Linked DNA regions of Homo sapiens: all the other regions are linked to region 2. Evidence: fine-mapped expression QTL. A gene starts in region 2. Each other region holds a variant in brackets. All regions are shown on one strand. Distances are from middle to middle.

Region 1 (5,264 bases), 82 kb before region 2:
GATGATAAGAGTACCTTAAATGAGTGCTAACAAGAATATAAGTACATATTTATTAGCATACCATGGTTCTGATTCATTTTAGTCCATTTGTGTTTTGTGATTAAACCTTATCTCTTTCATCTATTTACTTGGGATCAAACTATTACAGATTAAAGAGGAGGATTCTACGATGAGAACTTCTACAAAAGAATTGTCCAAAAACCACTTGGCAATTCAATCATTTGGGCTGCTTGTTTAAAATATAGATACTACATATAACCAACCAAAGATTATTATCCAGAATATGTAAAGAATTCCTACAAATCTTTAAGAAAAGGCAGAGACAGTTCAACAAAAAATAGAATAGGGAATTCACTCAAGAGGAAACTTGAACAGCAAATGAAAGGTGATCAGCCTCTCCAGTAACCAGGGGAAAATGCAGTTAACTTAAGATACTATTTTACATAGAACATAGAGATACAAGTTAAACACACCATGAGGAAACAATCAGTCAAACCCAGAACGTGGTTCAATCTACAGAATACCAGCCTGGATTTCACACACGCATGTGCACACACACACACATTCTTGGGACAATCAAGAAAATCTGAATATGGTTCAGATATTAGAGGACCTTAGGGCCGGGTACAGTGGCTCATGCCTGTAATCCCAGCACTTTGGGAGGCCAAGGCGGGTGGATCACGAAGTCAGGAGATTGAGACCATCCTGGCCAACATGGTGAAACCTATCTCTACCAAAACACACACACAAAAAAATTAGCCAGGCGTGGTGGCACACGCCTGTAGTCCCAGCTACTTAGGAGGCTGAGGCAGCGGAATCACTTGAACCTGGGAGGCGGAGGTTGCAGTGAGCGAAGATCATGCCACTGCATTCCCAGCCTGGTGACAGAGCAAGACTCCATCTCAAAAAAAAAAAAAAATAATAATGATATTAGAGGACATTAGGGAATTACCGTCATTTTTCTTAGGTGTAATAATGATATCGTAGTGATGCAGGAAAATGCTCTTAAAAAAATGTGTGTTGAAGGGATGATGTTATGATATCTACAACTTTCTAATGAGCAAAGGAAAAAAGTATGTGTCTATGAGAAAGAGAAAATAAATAAATCAAAATATTTATTGAATCCAAGAGGTTCACAGATGTTCACCAAACTATTTGTTCAACTTTCTTGTAACTGTAAACATCTTCACAATAGAAAGATGGAAAGAAGTCCTTTAAAGCTCAGCAGACTGGCAAACATGAAGTCTGATAAAATACTGAATTTCCTAAATTTGATAATTATTCTGTGTTTATGTTAGAAAATGTCCTTGTTCATAGGAAATACATACTGAAATATTTAGAAGCAAAGGAGCATGATGTCTACAACTGATTTCCAAATGGTTCAGGAAAAAAAATCTGTATAAAAATATATATAAAATTGAATCCCGTTCCGAGATGGCCAAATAGGAACAGCTTGGTCTGCAGCTCCCAGCGTGATCGACGCAGACGACGGGTGATTTCTGCATTTCCAACTGAGGTACCTGGTTTATCTCATTGGCACTGATTGGACAGTGGGTGCAGCCCATGGAGGGCGACCCGAAGCAGGGCAGGGCATCGCCTCACCCAGGAAATGCAAGGCGTCGGGGGATTTCCCTTTCCTAGCCAAGGGAAGCCGTACATTCACAGAAGACAGTACCTGGAAAAACAGGACACTCTCACCCAAATACTGTGCTTTTCCAATGGTCTTAGCAAACAGCACACCAGGAGATCATATCCCACACCTGGCTCAGCAGGTCCCATGCTCACAGAGCCTTGCTCACTGCTAGTGTAGCAGTCTGAGATAGACCTTGGAGGCAGCAGCCTGGCAGGGGGAGGGGCGTTCACCATTGCTGAGGCTTGAGTAGGTAAACACAGCAGCCAGGAAGCTCGAACTGGGCGGAGCCCACCGCAGCTCAGCAAGACCTCTGCCTCTACATGTAGACTCCACCTTTAGGAGCAGGGCATAGCTGAACAAAAGGCAGCAGAAACTTCTGCAGACTCAAACGTCCCTGTAGGACAGCTCTGAAGAGAGCAGTGGTTCTCCCAGCACAGTGTTTGAGCTCAGAGAACGGACAGACTGCCTCCTCAAGTGGGTCCCTGACCCCCGTGTAGCCTAACTGGGAGACACCTCCCAGTAGGGGCCAACTGACACATCATACAGGCGGGTGCCCCTCTGGGAAGAAGCTTCCAGAGGAAGGATTAGGCAGCAATATTTGCTGTTCTGCAGCCTCTACTTGTGATACCGAGGCAAACAGGGTCTGGAGTGGACCTCTAGCAAACTCCAACAGACCAGCAGCTGAGGGACCTGACTGTTAGAAGGAAAACTAACAAACAGAAAGGAATAGCCTTAACATCAACAAAAAGGACATCCACACCAAAACCCCATCTGGAGGTAGACCAAAGACCAAAGGCCAAAGGTAGATAAAACCACAAAGATGGGGAGAAACCACAGCAGAAAAGCTGAAAATTCTAAAAACCGAGCGCCTCTTCTCCTCCAAAGGATGGCAGCTTCTCACCAGCAACAGAACAAAGCTGGATGGAGAATGACTCTGATGAGCTGACAGAAGTAGGCTTCAGAAGGTCAGTAATAACAAACTTCTTCAAGCTAAAGGA[C/T]GATGTTTGAACCCATTGAAAGGAAGCTAAAAACCTTGAAAAAAGATTAGACGAATGGCTAATTAGAATAAAGAGTGTAGAGAAGACCTTAAATGACCTGATGGAGCTGAAAACCATGGCATGAGAACTACGTAACACATGCACAAGCTTCAGTAGCCAATTTGATCAAGTGGAAGAAAGGGTATCAGTGACTGAAGATCAAATTAACGAAATAAAGCAAGAAGAGAAGTTTAGAGAAAAAAGAGTAAAAAGAAATGAACAAAGCCTCCAAGAAATATGGGACTATGTGAAAAGACCAAATCTACGTTTGAATGGTGTACCTGAAAAGTGACAGGGAGAATGGAACTAAGTTGGAAAACACTCTTCAGGATATTATCCAGGAGAACTTCCCTAACCTAGCAAGGCAGGCCAACATTCAAATTCAGGAAATACAGAGAACACCACAAAGATACTCCTCGAGAAGAGCAACTCCAAGACACATAATTGTCAGATTCCCTAAGGTTGACATGAAGGAAAAAATGTAAGGGCAGCCAGAGAGAAAGGCTGGGTTACCCACAAAGGGAAGCCCATCAGACTAACAGCAGATCTCTCAGAAACTCTACAAGCCAGAAGAGAGTAGAGGCCAATATTCAACATTCTTAAAAGAAAATAATTTTCAACCCAGAATCTCATATTCAACCAAACTAAGCTTCATGAGTGAAGGAGAAATAAAATCCTTTACAGACAAGCAAATGCTGAGAGATTTTGTCACCACCAGGCCTGCCTTACAAGAGCTCCTGAAGGAAGCACTAAACATGGAAAGGAACAACCCGTACCAGCCACTGCAAAAACATGCCAAATTGTAAAGACCATCAATGCCAGGAAGAAACTGCATCAACTAACGGACAAAATAACCAGCTAGCATCATAACAACAGGATCAAATCCACACATAACAATATTAACCTTAAATGTAAATGGGCTAAATGCCCCCAATTAAAAGACACAGACTGGCAAATTGGATAAAGAGTCAAGACCCATCAGTGTGCTATATTCAGGAGACCCATCTCATGTGCAGAGACACACATAGGTTCAAAATAAAGGAATGGAGGAAGATCTACCAAGCAAATGGAAAGCAAAAAAAAGCAGGGCCTGCAATCCTAGTCTCTGATAAAACAGACTTTAAACCAACAAAGATCAAAAGCGACAAAGAAGGGTATTACATAATGGTGAAGGGATCAATTCAACAAGAAGGGCTGACTATCCTAAACATATATGCACCCAATACAGGAGAACCCAGATTCATAAAGCAAGTCCTTAGAGACCTACAAAGAGACTTAGACTCCTACACAATAATAATGGGAGACTTTAACACCCCACTGTCAATATTAGACAGATCAACAAGACAGAAGGTTAACAAGGATATCCAGGAATTGAACTCAGCTCTGCACCAAGCAGACCTAATAGATATCTACAGAATTCTCCACCCCAAATCAACAGAATATACATTCTTCTCAGCACCACATCTCACTTATTCCAAAATTGACCACATAGTTGGAAGTAAAGCACTCCTCAAAAAATGTAAAAGAACAGAAATCACAACAAACTGTCTCTCAGACCACAGTGCAATCAAATTAGAACTCAGGATTAAGAAACTCACTCAAAACCACTCAACCACATGGAAACTAAACGACCTGCTCCTAATGACTACTGGATACACAATGAAATGAAGGCAGAAATAAAGATGTTCTTTGAAACCAATGAGAACAAAGACACAACATACCAGAATCTCTAGGACACATTTAAAGCAGTGTGTAAAGGGAAATGTATAGCACTAAATGCCCACAAGAGAAAGCAGGAAAGATCTAAAATCAATACCCTAACAACACAACTAAAAGAACTAGAGAAGCAAGAGCAAACACATTCAAAAGCTAGCAGAAGGCAAGAAACAACTAAGATCAGAGCCAAACTAAAGGGGATAGAGACACAAAAAACCCTTCAAAAGAATCAGTGAATCCAGGAGCTGGTTTTTTGAAAAGATCAACAAAATAGATAGACCGCTAGCAAGACTAACAAAGAAGAAAAGAGGGTAGAATCAAATAGATGCAATAAAAAATGATAAAGAGGGTATCACCACCAATCCCACAGAGATACAAACTACCATCAGAGAATACTATAAACACCTTTATGCAAATAAACTAGAAAATCTAGAAGAAATGGATAAATTCCTGGACACATACACCCTCCCAAGACTAAACCAGGAAGAAGTTGAATCTCTGAATAGACCAATAACAGGATCTGAAATTGAGGCAATAATTAATAGCCTACCAACCAAAAAAACTCCAGGACCAGATGGATTCACAGCTGAATTCTACCAGAGGTACAAAGAGGAGCTGGTACCATTCCTTCTGAAACTCTTCCAATGAATAGAAAAAGAGGGAATCCTAACTCATTTTATGAGGCCAGCATCATCCTGATACCAAAGCCTGGCAGAGACACAACAAAAAAAGAGAATTTTAGACCAATATCCCTGATGAATATCGATGTGAAAATCCTCAATAAAATACTGGCAAACCGAATCCAGCAGCACATCAAAAAGCTTATCCACCACGATCAAGTCGGCTTCATCCCTGGGATGCAAGGCTGGTTCAACATA
Region 2 (5,000 bases):
CTCTAAATTTACAACCCATTAATATACCTCCCTGTAAGCTGTCTGATTTTGAAAATTATACATGATAAAATCTTTTTATTATACATAAAAAAGAGTTCTGTAGTTTGTATTAATAGAAAATTGGTGTCCAGACATATTTTACCAAGTAAGTACAAAATAACTAAAGAATATCCATTTGAAAGATACAAAATTATTATCCTGCTAGGAGCACCTTGGTGTCAAGGTGACTTCAGGGAATAATCAGGTAATTCAGCTCCTTGGCCGGAGTGAAGAATGGAATGTTGAGGCTGGAGAACTAAGCAGGGCTCAAGAGGGGCCTGGTGCACTAGGCTAGGTCATTTGGGCTCAATCATGAGGGGACAATTGAGGCAGCATTAGCAGGAAGGTCAGGTGACCACCAAACTTTCTGCCAGATCTGAGTTTCTTCTCTTTTAGAAATGCAGTATTTGTATAAAAATGAAAGGCTTACCAAAGGTCACATTTTAAATTATAAAGAAAAAAAATCATCTTTTTTTTTTTTTTTTTTTTCTGAGATGGAGTCTGGCTCTGTTGCTCAGGCTGGAGTGCGGTGGCGTGATCTGTGCTCAACCTCCACCTCCCAGGTTCAAGTGAATCTCCTGCCTCAGCCTCCCAAGTAGCTGGGATTACAGGCACCCGCCACCACGCCTGGCTAATTTTTGTATTTTTAGTAGAGGCGGGTTTTCGCCATGTTGGCCAGGCTGGTCTTGAACTCTTGACCTCAGGTGATCCACCCACCTCGGCCTCCCAAAGATCTGGGATTACAGGTGTGAGCCAGCGTGCCCAGCCTCAAAAGTTCATCTGTGAGCCACATTTAGAAGGTAGATAAAAAATTTTGACTAAACACAGCTTAGAATCTATAAATTGTTAAACTTCAGTTCTGTTGAGAATCTTTGAGATCCATCATTCTCTAAATGTTTTCTACCAGAGAAACAGGACAATGGCTTGCAAATATTGGTTATCAGTATTTACTCTATAGCTCAAGCAAACAAACTTATTTGCACTTAAAATACAAATATTACCTACCTTGATTTGAGTGTTGTTGTTCTCTCTTAAATTTCATTTCCCAAAAATGATGGCAAAAGTACTGTTTGTTTTAACTTGACCCATCTTTTGCAACCCAGCTTAATCATTTCACAGATTCCCTTTTGAAATAAATGGGCTAGATGATCAGACAATAGTGGCAAATGTTTGTCATTTCAATGACATATGCAAGAGATACCTTTAGTGAAATTTGTATATCAAATTTCCCTTTGTGCTCCTTTTTTCCCTAGTGAATTCAGCATTAAAGTGTTTATAAATATTTTTGGTTTATTATTTATTAATTCAAAGCAAAGAATGCCAATGTGACCATAAATATCTCATTTATATATCATAAATATCTCATTATAGAAATATGTTTAGAGACATCTGTTTTATTATTTTAAAGAAGAGTACATATTATATATTAAGGTAAAAATAGTACTAAAAAAGAGAAGGTAGTAAATAAAAAAATTCTAATGAACATAAAACATCATAAAAATTAACTTAATTAAAAATCAGCCAGGCACAGTGGCTCATGCCTGTAATCCCAGTACTTTGGGAGGCCAAGGTGGGTGGATCACCTGAGGTCAGGAGTTCGAGACCAGCCTGGCCAACACGGTGAAACCCTACCTCTACTAAAAATACAAAAAATTAGCTGGATGTGATGGGACATGCCTGTAGTCCCAGCTACTTGGGAGGCTGAGGCAGGAGAATGCCTTGAACCTGGGAGGCAGAGGTTGCCCTGAGCCAAGATAGTGCCACTAGACTCCAGCCTGGGCGACAGAAAGAGACTCTGTCTCCAAAAAAAAAAAAAAAAGTATAAAGATAAAATTTTAGTATATTGTGAATTAATTACTAGACTCAATTGTTATAGGAAGCTTTGTTTTTCTGGAGCTCTTATATTAAAATTATTAAAATCCTCACTGAAAAGTATAACATGTGTTTTCTTTAAAAGAAAGATATTCTATATCTGAATAAAGACAAACTTTGAACGAGTGGTATATGCCTTAATAAATATTGGAGAATATCTATTCTCCAATACTTAGAGAATGACGACAGCATCCTCCACATGGCGTTTTCATTGCCAGTCACAACTTTCCTCCACCTAGTGTTCTCTAGACTGAGACAGACCAAGGAACAATTCCCTAGACCTCCTTTGCAGAGCTAGGTTATGCTCAGACCATTTGCAGCACCAAGGACACTGCCATTCAGGTCACCAAAAAAAGATCATCTTGTGAGCCCTGTCTAAACCAGGCCCCTTCTAAAATCATTTCAGTGTGAAACTGAGTCCAGGTGGGTCTTCATCAGTATTAGAGTGGACCTGCCAGATGTATGCTTGCAGATGATGCAACATCAAAGCAAATGCCCTGGGCAAGAGAAGAAAGGCCAAAGCAATGGGCTTACTGGTTTCTAGCTTTGAGCCACTCTTCATAGTGCCAAATTCCCATTTTAGGGTCCCTTTATTTGTATTAATAAAAATAAATTCCCTGGGTGTAAGTTCCTGTAAAGTACTCCCTATCTGTATTCCTGGGCATGAAAGGGTGTTTTAGTTCCAATTCTAGTTTTCCCACTTAGAGGTTCACCTTTCTGACATTAATAATTAACCAGATTATCTGAATTCTTCAAGTTCAGTTTATTTAAAAGGAGACTATCCTCAAAAGTGTTATATCCGTGGTTTCCTGCTACCTCCAACCATGGGCCTTTTGGGAATACTTTGTTTTTTAATCTTCCTGGGGAAAACCTGGGGACAGGAGCAAACGTAAGTAAAACAAGCTATCTTCATTTTTCAATGCATCTTAGTTATGACGAATGAAGAGTTAAATTTAACAGATTCTGTTAACTTGAAAATAACTTGCTACTTCTGAGAACAGCAAGTGAATAGTATCATCTCTGAATGAGAAAGTCATGGAAGCATTTTGATTTGATGAGTAGCTAACAACATGACAGCTTTTATGGAATTGTTATTTATTAAAATTTACGTTAAGTGATTATTCAAATTCCTCTTCAAAAAAGCACAAAAGAAACTCCAGATAATAAACTTTCTTGACATTTTTTGCTTATTTTAACTTGGTGTTTAGTTTTCTTTGTGTTTTTCATAGACTATACACAGTTAAACCAGGGTTATTTAGGAGTCAATCTAATACTGTGATCTGAAAATCTGTTGTTGTAGTGACTTCTACCATACATTTATGAGCTGACTTTTCACAATTTTTAGTGTCATTATTGAGATAATATGCATTTTAAGTAATGTTTTAAAAATAATGATCTTATATCTAGAAATATTTTAATACTGAAAAGTAACTGCAGATCATCTAATCAAACCTATTCATTTTATATATGAGAATAAGTCCAGATAAGGGAAGTGACTGACCAAAGGTCACAGTTCTAGAGAGAGAGAAACAGGATTTTTATTAAGGTCTCCTGTTTATCACTTCAATTTTTTTCATTTTGTCATAAATGTATACATGTAAATATATTATATATAAACACATACTTAGGATGTCATTCTTTTTTAGCACCCTCGTATTTCTGATCTGTGATCTTTTTACATGGCCACAAGCACTCAACTACCTTAGCATCCTGCCTTTATTCTTTTTGAAAGACGAGCAGCTAAGGCTTAGAGAGACTGAAATTAAGTGACTTCAAATTGGTGGCAGAACTAGGGCTAGGACCTGGGTTCCATGATTCTTGTCCAGACTTATTCTGAATTCTTTCTACTAGCCCTTAATAAAAATTATTTCCTCACTTTCTCTGAAGAAGTCAGAGTGTACCATTTACAACATGGCAATCAATCACTTTAATTAATTGGTTGATTGATTGATTCAACAAATATTTATTGAGCATCTAAACATATGATAGGCACTGCAGATATAGCAAACGGTAAGACAATTCCTAGAGCTTGCATTCTAGTGGGAGAAGCAAGTAATGAATGAATGAACCAATGAAAGAATGTGTAAGGTCAGGTAGGTAGTATTATGAAGAAAAAAATAAAGCAGAGTATGAGAATTAAAAAATAATTATGGGGCACTATTTTAAAATGTGGCCAGGAAAGGTTCTCTTAAGGAGGCTGCACTCAAACAGAGCCTGAAGGAAGTGAGGAAGCAAACCATGCAAATATTTGAGGAAAGAGCATTCCAGATAGAGGCCAAAATAACATTCTTGCCTCTCTGCAAGCTCCTGCTCCTCTGCAGCAATTGAAAGACAAAGAAAACTATGAAATTATTTATATGGATAGATTATGCTACTGATAAGTCAATAAGAACCAAAATCTTTATAAAGGGTGGTTCCAGAATATTCTTTTAGGGGCTTCTAAACACTATGTATTTTTGCTTGACGGCTACCATCACATAGACCAGCAGTCCCCAACCATTTTGGCACTAGGGACAGGTTTTGTGGAAGACAATGTTTCCATGGACCAGGATTGGGGTGGGGATGGTTTCAGAATGAAACTGTTCCACTTCAGATCATCAGGCATTATATTCTCATAAGGAGCTTGCAATCTAGATCCCTCGCATGTGCGGTTCACAATAGAGTTCATGCTCCTAGGAGAATCTAATGCCACCACTGATCTGACAGGAGGCAGAGCTCAGGTGGTAATGCTCCTTTGCCCCACTGCTCACCTCCTGCTGTGTAGCCTGGTTCCTAACAAGCCATGGACTGGTATTTGTCCATGGCCCAGGGGTTGGGGACCCCTACCATACACAATTCAAAATTAAAGCAATACTAAACTTAAAAACATAAAGCTTCTATAAATACTGAAATTAAAGTAGCTTTATATCCCTAAATTTTTCTAATTACAAAACTCTTTATAAATTCCATTTAGTACAACAGTTGAAAATGTTAATTCTGGAAACGGGCTGCTCAGGTTCGATTTCTAATTCTATAATTTGTGAATTATAGAATTCATAAATCCTATATGTGTGGCCTTGGGAAAATTAATTAGCAGTTTCTTCACCTTA
Region 3 (5,000 bases), 64 kb after region 2:
CTTCTCACCACCTCCACCACACTATCCTGTTCCAAGACACCTTCCTCTCCCACCTGGATTCTTACACTAGTCTCCCTTAGTCTTCTGGGTTCAGCCCTTGATCCTCTTCAGTATATACTCAACACAGCAACTGAAGTGACCCTGTTAAAACATATGTTAGATCATGCCACTCAAAACCATTTAGGAGCTTCCCATCTTACCCAGAGTAAAAACCAAACTTTTTATTGTGATTTACAAAGCTCTGTATGATCTGGCTCCACCTCATGTCTCCTACTTTATCTCCTATACTCTCTTTCCCTCCAATTCAGCCCCACTAGCCTTCCTCAAACACACCAGGCATGCTTCCACCTCAGGGCCTTTGCACTGTTTTCTCAGTCTGGAATACTCCTCCTTAGGTGTCAGCATGACTGGCTCTCATATTTCCCTCAGGTCTTTACCAAATGTCACCTTGGGGAGGCCTCTGCTATATCATAATGTCTAAAATTGCAATCCACTCCCCTCCCAACACCTCATATCGTTTCTTTTCTCCTCAGTGTGATTACTAACGTTCTTGCTTATTCCACTATTGTGTATCTCCCCCACTGGAATATAAGCTCCATGCGGGAAGTTCTAAGTATCCCTAGTGCCTGGTACCTACCTGGCACATAGTAGATGCTCAGTAAGTATTTATTCAATGAAACATATCTTCCAAAATTCTGATGATTTGAGGGAAAGATAGTCTGAATTAATTAAGAGTCCATATGGCAGTCTATTTTCAAAAAATACCGGCTGGGCATGGTGGCTCACGCCTGTAATCCCAGCACTTTGGGAGGACAAGGCGGGCGGATCATGAGGTCAAGAGATCGAGACCATCCTGGCCAACATGGTGAAACCCCGTCTCTATGAAAAATACAAAAATTAGCTGGGCGTAGTGGCATGTGCCTGTAGTCCCAGCTACTCAGGAGGCTGAGGCAGGAGAATCACTTAAACCCAGGAGGCAAGGGTTACAGTGAGCCGAGATCGCGCTACTGCACTCCAGCCCGGGTGACAGAGTGAGACTCTGTCTCAAAAAACAAAACAAAACAAAACAAAAAAACCATCATGCTATGACAAAATATTTAATAAAAACGGTGTGCCAGCTGCTTTGTAGGTTCTATATGAAACATATTTAAGGAGTTTACAACCTAGAATACTTTAATTTTAGATTTTTTTCTTTTTTCTTTTTTCTTTTTTTTTTTTTTGAGACGGAGTCTTGCTCTGTTCCCAGGCTGGAGTGCAGTGGCACGATCTCGGCTCACTGCAACCTCCGCCTCCCGGGTTCAAGCGATTCTCCTGGCTCAGCCTCCTGAGAGCTGGGATTACAGGCGCGCACCACCATGCCTAATTTTTGTATTTTTAGTAGAGGTGGGGTTTCACCATGTTGGCCAGGATGGTCTCGATCTCCGGACCTCGTGATCCACCCACCTCAACCTCCCAAAGGGCTGGGATTACAGGCATGAGCCACTGCGCCTGGCCAGTTTTTTTTCTTTAGCTATTGAGATCTCCCAGAATTTTATCTTTGGCCCTCTTATTTTCTGTAATCTCCCCTGGTACAGTCTCATTATTGCCCATGATTTCCATAACATCTAGGCCAATGGCCCCCTAATCAATGTCTCAAGGCCTAACTTCTTTCCTAAGAAGTTAGGAAATGTCCTAGATCCATATTTCTAGGTTTCCGGAAGCCAAAGATCCTTCAAGCACAATATGTGCCAAATTCATTATTTTCTTCCTCAAATACACTTCTGTTTCTTTACTCAGTGCACAACAATACCCTGCCCTTTGTCCCCCATGGATCAAGTCAGAATCATCAGTTGGTTTTTGATTCCTTCCTTTCCTTTTGGCTTTACCTCTGATCAGCTACCAAGTTCCATAGATTATACCTTAGGATTAGGTCTGACCATGTGTGGGTGACACACTTCAAAAGACACACAGGGCCAGATACAGTGGCTCACACCTATAATCCTAGCACTTTGGGAGGCTGAAGCAGGAGGATGGCTTGAGCAGAGGAGTTCCAGACCAGACTGGGTAACATAGGGAGACCCTGTCTTTAATAAAACAATAAAAATATAAAAAAATAAATAAAAGGCTCATAGACCCCTGCAGCACACCAACCAGAGGATAACCCAGGATGCAGGAGTGGGAGTGAGTGTCAATGAAGACTGGAAACTGACACAGCAGGACCTGGGAAATAGATGCCTGGAGAGCAGAAAGCCCCACAGGAAGGTACAACAGCCTCTCAGTAAACACTCAGAGCCTTTCAAGAGTTTGGGGCAAGACTGAAACATACACCCAACTCCATGAGTTCCTTGAAAGAAATAATAGACATAGAAGAAAATGTCCAGCACCTAAATACCCTCAAACTTTTCTTGAGAAATACAAAGCAGATTTTTTAAAGTACGAATATCATTCATATTAGCAAAACCCAAAATTGATGATGATGAACATTTTTTATATTCGTCTTTTTTTTTTTTTAAAGAACATTGTGGATATTGAACTTTTCTCTTTAACTACAAGCCTCCATCTTATTTCTGTTTCTTTCCCCCAAGGGCATTCACTATCATGAGTTTATGCATCTTTCCAGAACATTTTTAATATTTTATATAGTATATATATACATGAAATCATATAGCTGTAACTTAACTCCAGTTTGGCTGCTCACTGCTCAAATGCCAAACTCAAGAGACTAAGGTTGGTGGGAGGAAAAGCAGGTTAATTCAGGAGCCAGCAACCCAAGGAGATGGCAGACTAGAGTCAGGAAACTATCCCAAATGCCCTAGGCTGGCCAGAGGGATTTTAAAGAGGAAGGGGCTTGGAAAACTGTGTGCAAGAGTTAGCTACGTACAGGTCAGCATGTCTTGTTCTGATTATTATCTTGAGTAACGGGCCATCTAGTGGTCAGCTAGACTGAAACAGGTTTGTAGATTAACTGCTCAGTATTTTTCTTCTCCAGGGGACATTTCACA[T/A]CCTTGATTTTTATCTCATGGCTAGTTCCTGGAATTCTTAAGTAAGCACTGTTTAAGAAAGTTAAGCATTGTAAAAGAAAGAATGGTTATTTGCTTCCAAAATGAAGTGATGGGTTTACAGTCCCTTTTTGTATTTCTAAATGATTATAACTAGTATCATACTATACCTATCATTCTGTAACTTACCTTTTTCTTTTAATACTTTTTAGTTACTTTAGATCTAGTAGTATAGGTAAATATAGCTCACTCCTTTTCATTGCCATGCAGTATTTTATTTTACAAATATATCACATAGTATATATTCTTTATCTATTCCTATCTTGATGGACAACCATTTCCAAATTTTAATATTACAAACAATATGATAATGAACATCTTCATATGTCTCTTTGTGCACATGTGTGAGAGTTTCTCTAGGGTATATCCCAGGAGATAGAATTGCTGGAACATAAGGAATGCATATTTACAGTTTCATCAGATTTTGCCAGATTTCTCTTCAAGGTGACTAAAAAATTCTTTTCTACTCTAAATTTTTAGTCCCAGACCCTACTGTAAAACATGAGGAACTAAACTAGACCATATTAAGCACTTGTAGAGGTAGCCTAGGGTCTGGAACAAAAGCAAATCAAATAGCCTACTTCTTTTTTTCCTCCATGTCACACTTAAAATTTGAATTTCAGGGCAGTCTCCAAGGGACAGGTCAGTGGGAAGAGGAGAACGCAAAAAGCTAGAGCGAATTGTATTTGCTTTACCTTTAGGGAAGTGCTGTCTAGACTCTCACTCCTTAAGGATACCAGGGATGAGACACCCAAGAGTACCAAAGAGAAAGAGAGATAGGAGTAAGAGCTTATAAAAACCAGGTGCAGTGGCTCACACCTATAATCCCAGCACTTTGGGAGGCTGAGGCGGGTGGATCACCTGAGGTCAGGAGTTTGAGACCAGCCTGGCCAACATGGTGAAACCCTGTCTCTACTAAAAATACAAAAATTAGCTTGGCATGGTGGCACGTGCCTGTAGTCCCACCTACTCAGGAGGCTGAGGCAGGAGAATCGCTTGAACCTGGGAGGTGGAAGCTGTAGTGAGCCAAGATTGCGCCATTGCACTCCAGCCTGGGCAACAGAGAGAGAGTCCGTCTGAAAAAAAAAAAAAAAAAAAAAAAAAGTAAGAGCTTATACCTATTGAATACTTACTATAATCCAGAACTATTTTAAGTATGTTCATATATTTAATCTTTATAATTGATCCCAAAGGATGAGTCCGTTGTTTCTATTTATTGCCATTGCCTTTTTTCAAAGATGTAACTAAAGCATCTTTATATATACAGATGTATAGATAAGTGGAGAGGCAGCCTGGCCGTATAACTGCACTCATATGCCTTTCTAGCCTGCTAAAAGAAGAGAGACTTCCAAAAGCCAAAATCCCAAGAGAGACCCAATGTAAAATGTGGGCCAATCTTTGAAAATGTGAGTGTCCTTGAACCTGAGCAATCCGTAGAAGTATTTCTCATCCTTGAGAGCAGTGTGGGAGGATTAAAAAGAGAGGAGCTCTCAACTCTTACCCCCTAAAAGTCAATAGAGTAGAAAATAAATTTCTGATGTTTCTAGAGAAAGAATTAGGAAAAGGCACCTAGTTGTGGAGGGGCAAGTTCCGATTAATATCAAAAAAAAAATCTTTAAAATAATTAAATCAATTAGAGCAAAGACTGAGAACAACCTAAATGTCTACAGAAAGGGAAATGGCTTAAATAGCTTTGGTGCATCTGTACCAAAATACTATAATTTAATGTATAAAATCACTTGTAAAAGAACAAGGAAACTTTATGTATTAATATAGATCTCTAAGGCATATTACTAAATGGAAAAAAAGCCAAGTACAGGATAATGTAAACATTCTCCCACCATTTTGGTGTGGTTGGGATGGAAAGGTAGATGGGAAGGCTATATCTTGTATCTACTATTTGGAAGAAAGCACAAGAAACAATGGTCATCTTCTGTTGGGAGGTGGAGGGGGACAGGGACT
Region 4 (5,217 bases), 22 kb before region 2:
CCAATCGCCCCCGCCGTCCCCACCTCTTCCCATCCAAACCTCCCTCCTTCATCCACCGCCCCACGCCCGTTCCGGGCCCTCCCCTCTTTCCCGTCCAATCCCAATTCCCAGACACGCGCCCCCGCCCCGAATCCATCCCAAGCCGGCCCACACCACGCCCGGTCCGGGCCTTCCCGCCTTTGCCGCCGGCCCCCACTGCTCGGGCCGGATGCCGGGGAACGGGCTCGGCCAGGTCTGACGCTCACCGCCTAGAAGCCGAGCCGAGCAGTCCCGCAGGCTGAGGTAGAGCGGGAGAAGTTCGGGCTCTTTCCTCAGGGGCCCAGCGGCGCGGCAGCCATTTTGTTGTGTTGTGCCGGTTGCCGAGGGGCCGCGCGCGCGTGGTCGGGGCTAGTCTCAGCCACGCCCCTCTCCCTCTCCGGTACTGTTGGAAGGGACGCGGAGGCGTTTCCCGCCTCTTTTGCAGCCAGCGCGCTAGGATGCCGGGGAGTCTTGGGCGCGAGGCTTCCGGCCGCGCGGGGCCGACGGGATGCGGTGCCTTCGCCTTCGGATTGCGTTGCAGGTGAAGTGTCGGGTGCAGAGTCAGGGGGAGCCGAGGTTTCATGCGGCAGCTGCCCGCAGTGCTGTGGCCTTCGCTGAGACAAAGCTGCCGCCGCCACCCTCTGAAACACGGACACGCTTCTCAGGGCCTGTGTCCGAGGACGGCCTGAGGCACCGGCGCAGCGCCTCCCCGGCCTCCCCCACTTCTGATGCTTGCGCGCTATGAGCGAGTGTTCTTATCAGCACACTTCTCTCTGACAGTCGTATCTAAAGCGAATTCCCTCCAGGGACCGAACTGCCCAGGCTCGGATGAACCTCAAAGCGGACGCAGCCTGGGCTCCAGCTGTCGCGTGAGGTTCAGGGAGCTTGGGAATCCTAGGCAGAGGATGTTCCTCTGATTGCTACAAGGGAGTTAAAGCAAGAAGCACTTGCACAGGCTTCATCTGGGGCTTGCCCATGAGCACGGCGTTCACGACATGCATTCAACAGATATTTTAAAGAATTTAGCAGATACTGGGCTGGATGCTAGGGAAACACTGAAGTTTTTTTTAAAGTGTTATCACCATTGACGCCTTTCACTCCAGTAGCCTCCCGTTTTGAAGGTATACCCTGGACCATGTTACCATCAGAGGCTGCACCCGCTCCAGAAATCCCCAGTGCAATCGCTCCCCATCCTTGACTATAATCCTATCATCTTAGCAGCGTGCCTGCTCAAAAGACCCCTATGCCAGCGTATTTCTAAACTTCCTTGCGTCTTCCAGTCCCTTGTTCTTACCATTTTCTCGCGATCATTCTATCCTGTCTTCATTTCCTTTCTTCACTACAGAGTTTATAGGCCACCTGTATAACACTTTTAGAAACTCCCTCTCTCTCTGTGTCTCAGTTTCCTTATCTATGAAATGAGGTCCTTTTACCTATTAACACTTCCTACAGTTTTCCTGATAATTATAAAAGTGAATCCTGGCCGGGCGCTGTGGCTCATGCCTGTAATCCCAGCACTTTGGGAGACCAAGGTGGGAGGATCACTTGAGGTCAGGAATTCAAGATCAGCCTGGCCAACAAGGTGAAACGCCGTCTCTACTAAAAATACAAAAATTACCCGGGCGTGGTGGCGCACGCTTGTCATCCCAGCTGCTTGAGAGGCTGCAGGAGGATCGCTTGAACCCGGGAGGCGGAGGTTGCAGTGAGCCGAGATCGCGCCACTGCACTCCAGCCTGGACGACAGAGCGAGACTCCATCTCAAAAAAAAAAAAAAAAAAAAAAAGTCCAGTTTTCCTGATAATTATAAAAGTGAATCTCTGTGAAAGAACTTAGAACAGTGAGGGACCCATAGTAAGTTCTCAATATGTCTTAGATATTTCATTATTAGACAAAGGTTACCCAGAAGCAATACTTCTTTCTACGCCCAAAAGAAGAGTTTAGGCAAGGAGTAGGGAGGTGGGGAAGAATTTGCTTGGCAAAGGGAACAACTTGTGCAAACCCCGGAAGCGGGGGAAAAGAGCTTGGCAATGTGCTGAATGTTAAGTAATTCAGTGTGGCTGGAACAAAACATGAGTATGGAAACATGAAGTAGTTCAGTATGGCTTGTGCAAAAATCTGGGGTGGAGAAGCTAAATCTGGAAAAGGGACCATATTATAAGCAGTATTAGGCACTTCATTTTTCCTTAAGGCAGAGATGGCTTCACCTCTATAGGAAATTCAGGGGACGTCCAACAGGGAATAAGCTGCAATAAACATGGGGATGCAGATGTGTCTTTGATTTACTTTGATTTACTGATTTCCTTTTCCTTTTACTTAAATGTGATTCCCATTGACATTTAAGTGAATGGTGCTGTCCTCTCCCCAACTATTTACACGACACAGAACGAAGCCCTTGGAGTTTAAACGCAGAATTTTTGAAAAGCTCCACTTAAGAGGAGATTACATTCATTTTTTTTCTTTTCTTTTTTTTTTTTTTTTTTTTAATTTTTTGAACAGAGTCTGGCTCTGTCACCCAGGCTGGAGTGCAGTGGCAGGATCTCGGCTCAGTGCAACCTCCGCCTCCCGGGTTCAAGCGATTCTCCTGCCTCAGCCTCCCGAGGAGTTGGGATTACAGGCACGCACCACCAAGGCCAGCTAATTTTTGTATTTTAGTAGAAACAGAGTTTCACCATGTTGGTCAGGCTGGTCTCAATCTCCTGACCTCACGTGATCCGCCCGCCTCGGCCTCCCAAAGTGCTGGGATTACAGGCGTGAGCCACCGCGCCCTGCCGAGATTACATTCATTTTTAATCGAAGTTCAGGTGATATTTATTAGATTGGAATGTGTACGTTGCTGAGTTTCAGTTCTATTTGCATATGTTTTGACACCCATCGTTTCGGTTTCTTGTACCCAGAAACTTAGATTTATTGCGTAACCTCATTGCTGTGTCCCTCAAAGTCTGTAATGGTATTCACGTGGGATCCATTATCAAGCCGTGGTGTGCTGATGTAGTTCATTATCAATCATATTAGTATCAATTAATAGCCATCAAATATACATAAAAAGTCCAGAGGGTGGCGCAAAACACTTTTCTCTTGGGTGATCTCTCAGTCCGTATCCAGTTAGCCGCGGATGGGCACTCACCGGTCCCATGTTGCCCCCTTTTCCTCCTCATACAGACCTCTGCTGGTGTCTAGCATCATCTCTAACGAAGCTAGAGACTTCAAAGGAGAGACCTTTCTCCAGTTAATTTGAATATTAACTGTCTCTCTTAGCATGCTAAAAGAACTTC[C/A]TTCTCCAAAGCAGAAGTGAGAATACGAAAGTAACGCAGACAACTCGCGTTCCACACTATTTTTCTTTATCTGATATTATGAAGAATGTACTCTGAGTTGCATTTACAATACAAATATTAGCCACGTCAGGGTGACCAAGCTTTTACTCAGTCTTTTTTCCAAATGATAGCAAAGCTATTCTGTTTAAACTTCCCTCAGCTTTTTGCAACCCAGTTTAATCATTTTGCGAATTTGTTTTAGAGAAGAAACAGACTAGTTTGTCAGACAGGGATGGCAACTTTCATTATTGCCATTTCTTTCTGTGACTGGCCAGTGTGATTTTGTTGTTTTGTTTTTTAAGACAAGGTCTCACTCTGTCACCCAGGTTTCAGTGCAGTGACACAATCATAACTCACTGCAGCCTTGACTTCTCAGACTCAAGTGATCCTCCTCCCTCAGCCTCCCAAATAGCTCAGTCTATAGGTGTGCACCACCACACCTAGCTAATTTTTAAACTTTTTGTAAAGATGGGGTCTTGCTGTGTTGCCCAGGCTGGTCTTAAACTCCTGGGCTCAAGCGATCCTCCCACCTCAACCTCCCAAAGTGCTGGGATTACACGCATGAGCCAGCATGCCCAGCCTGATTTTTTTTTAATTTTTATTCATTTATTTTTTTTTGTTTTTGTTGGTGTGTTTTGTTTTTTGTTCTTGTTTTTGTTTTTTTGAGACAGAGTCTCACTCTGTTGCCCAGGCTGGAGTGCAGTAGCACGATCATGGCTCACTGCAACCTCCACCTCCAGGGTTCAAACAATTTTTGTGCCTTAGCCTCCCCAGTAGCTGTGATTACAGGTGTGTGACTCCACGCCCAGCTATTTTTGTGTATGTGTGTGTATTTTTAGTACAGACAGTGCTTCACCATGTTGATCAGGCTGGTCTTCAACTCCTGGCCTCAAGTATCCGCTTGCCTTGGTCCCCCAAAGTGCTAGGTTTGTAGGTGTGAGTCACCATACCCAACCTTAATTTTTATTTTTAAATGACATGTAGTAACTGTACATATTTATGGGATACATAGTGATGTTTTAATACATATAAATGTATAGTGGTTGGAGTAATTAGCATATCCATCATCCCAAACATCATATGTTTATTTTAGGAAGATTTCATACCCTCCTTCTAGCTATTTGAAACTATATAATATATTATTGTTAACTATCCTCATCCTATAGTAAGTATAGAACACTAGAACTTATTGCTCCTATCTAGCTATAATTTTGTATCCTTTAAGATATCTTTCTCTCCTTCCCTTCCCCCTGCTACCCTTCCCAACCTTTAGTATCCTCTGTTCTACTGTTTACTCCTATGAGATCAACATTTTTCAGCTTCGACATATGACTGAGAACATGTGGCATTTAACTTACTGTTCCTGGCTTATTCACGTAATATACTGTCTTCCATTTCCATCCGTGTTGCTGTGAATTACAGTATTTCATTCTTTTTTATGGCTGAATAGTATTCCATTGTAAGTATGTATGTATATATATATGAATACGCACACACACACATATATATACACATACAGAATATACATATATATATACACATACAGAATATACATACATATATATATATATATATATATATATATATATATATATATATCACCCTTCCTTCCTTCCTTCTTTCTTTCTTTCAGAATTTTGTTCTTGTTGCCCAGGCTGCAGTGCAATGGCATGATCTCAGCTCACCGCAACCTCTGCCTCCTAGGTTCAAGCGATTCTCCTGCCTCAGCCTCCCGAGTAGCTGGGATTAGAGGCGCCTGCCAACATACCCAGCTAATTTTGTATTTTTAGTAGAGATGGGGTTTCTCCATGTTGGTCAGGCTAGTCTCGAACTCCTGACCTCAGGTGATCCACCTGCCTCGGCCTCTCAAAGTGCTGGGATTACAGGC

The links. PIP is the estimated chance that this variant, and not a neighbour inherited with it, causes the effect.
Region 1: its variant is fine-mapped to the expression of C5 in blood mononuclear cells (TOPMed, PIP 0.99).
Region 3: its variant is fine-mapped to the expression of C5 in adrenal gland (GTEx, PIP above 0.99). The same link has a PIP of 0.9 or more in cerebellar hemisphere.
Region 4: its variant is fine-mapped to the expression of C5 in whole blood (INTERVAL, PIP above 0.99).

What each region holds. Positions count from the first base shown.
Region 1 is chr9:121,129,949-121,135,212 of GRCh38, reverse strand. The region is part of intron 14 of CNTRL (centriolin); the gene reads right to left. Among named protein-coding and RNA genes, the nearest start is that of CNTRL, 58 kb to the right of the region's middle. The variant C/T (reference allele first, on the strand shown) is at 2,632.
Region 2 is chr9:121,047,982-121,052,981 of GRCh38, reverse strand. C5 (complement C5) reads left to right here and starts at 2,707. Exons shown (of 41, transcript NM_001735.3): 1 at 2,707-2,800. The coding sequence starts at 2,736. LOC124902261 (a long non-coding RNA gene) reads right to left here and starts at 125. Exons shown (of 3, transcript XR_007061753.1): 1 at 1-125.
Region 3 is chr9:120,983,857-120,988,856 of GRCh38, reverse strand. The region is part of intron 25 of C5 (complement C5); the gene reads left to right. Among named protein-coding and RNA genes, the nearest start is that of C5-OT1, 34 kb to the right of the region's middle. The variant T/A (reference allele first, on the strand shown) is at 2,982.
Region 4 is chr9:121,070,096-121,075,312 of GRCh38, reverse strand. CNTRL (centriolin) reads right to left here and starts at 358. Exons shown (of 44, transcript NM_007018.6): 1 at 246-358. It also overlaps a transcript of C5 not described here. RefSeq lists silencers at 1-93, 214-273, 898-1,094 and enhancers at 394-783, 3,137-3,186. The variant C/A (reference allele first, on the strand shown) is at 3,291.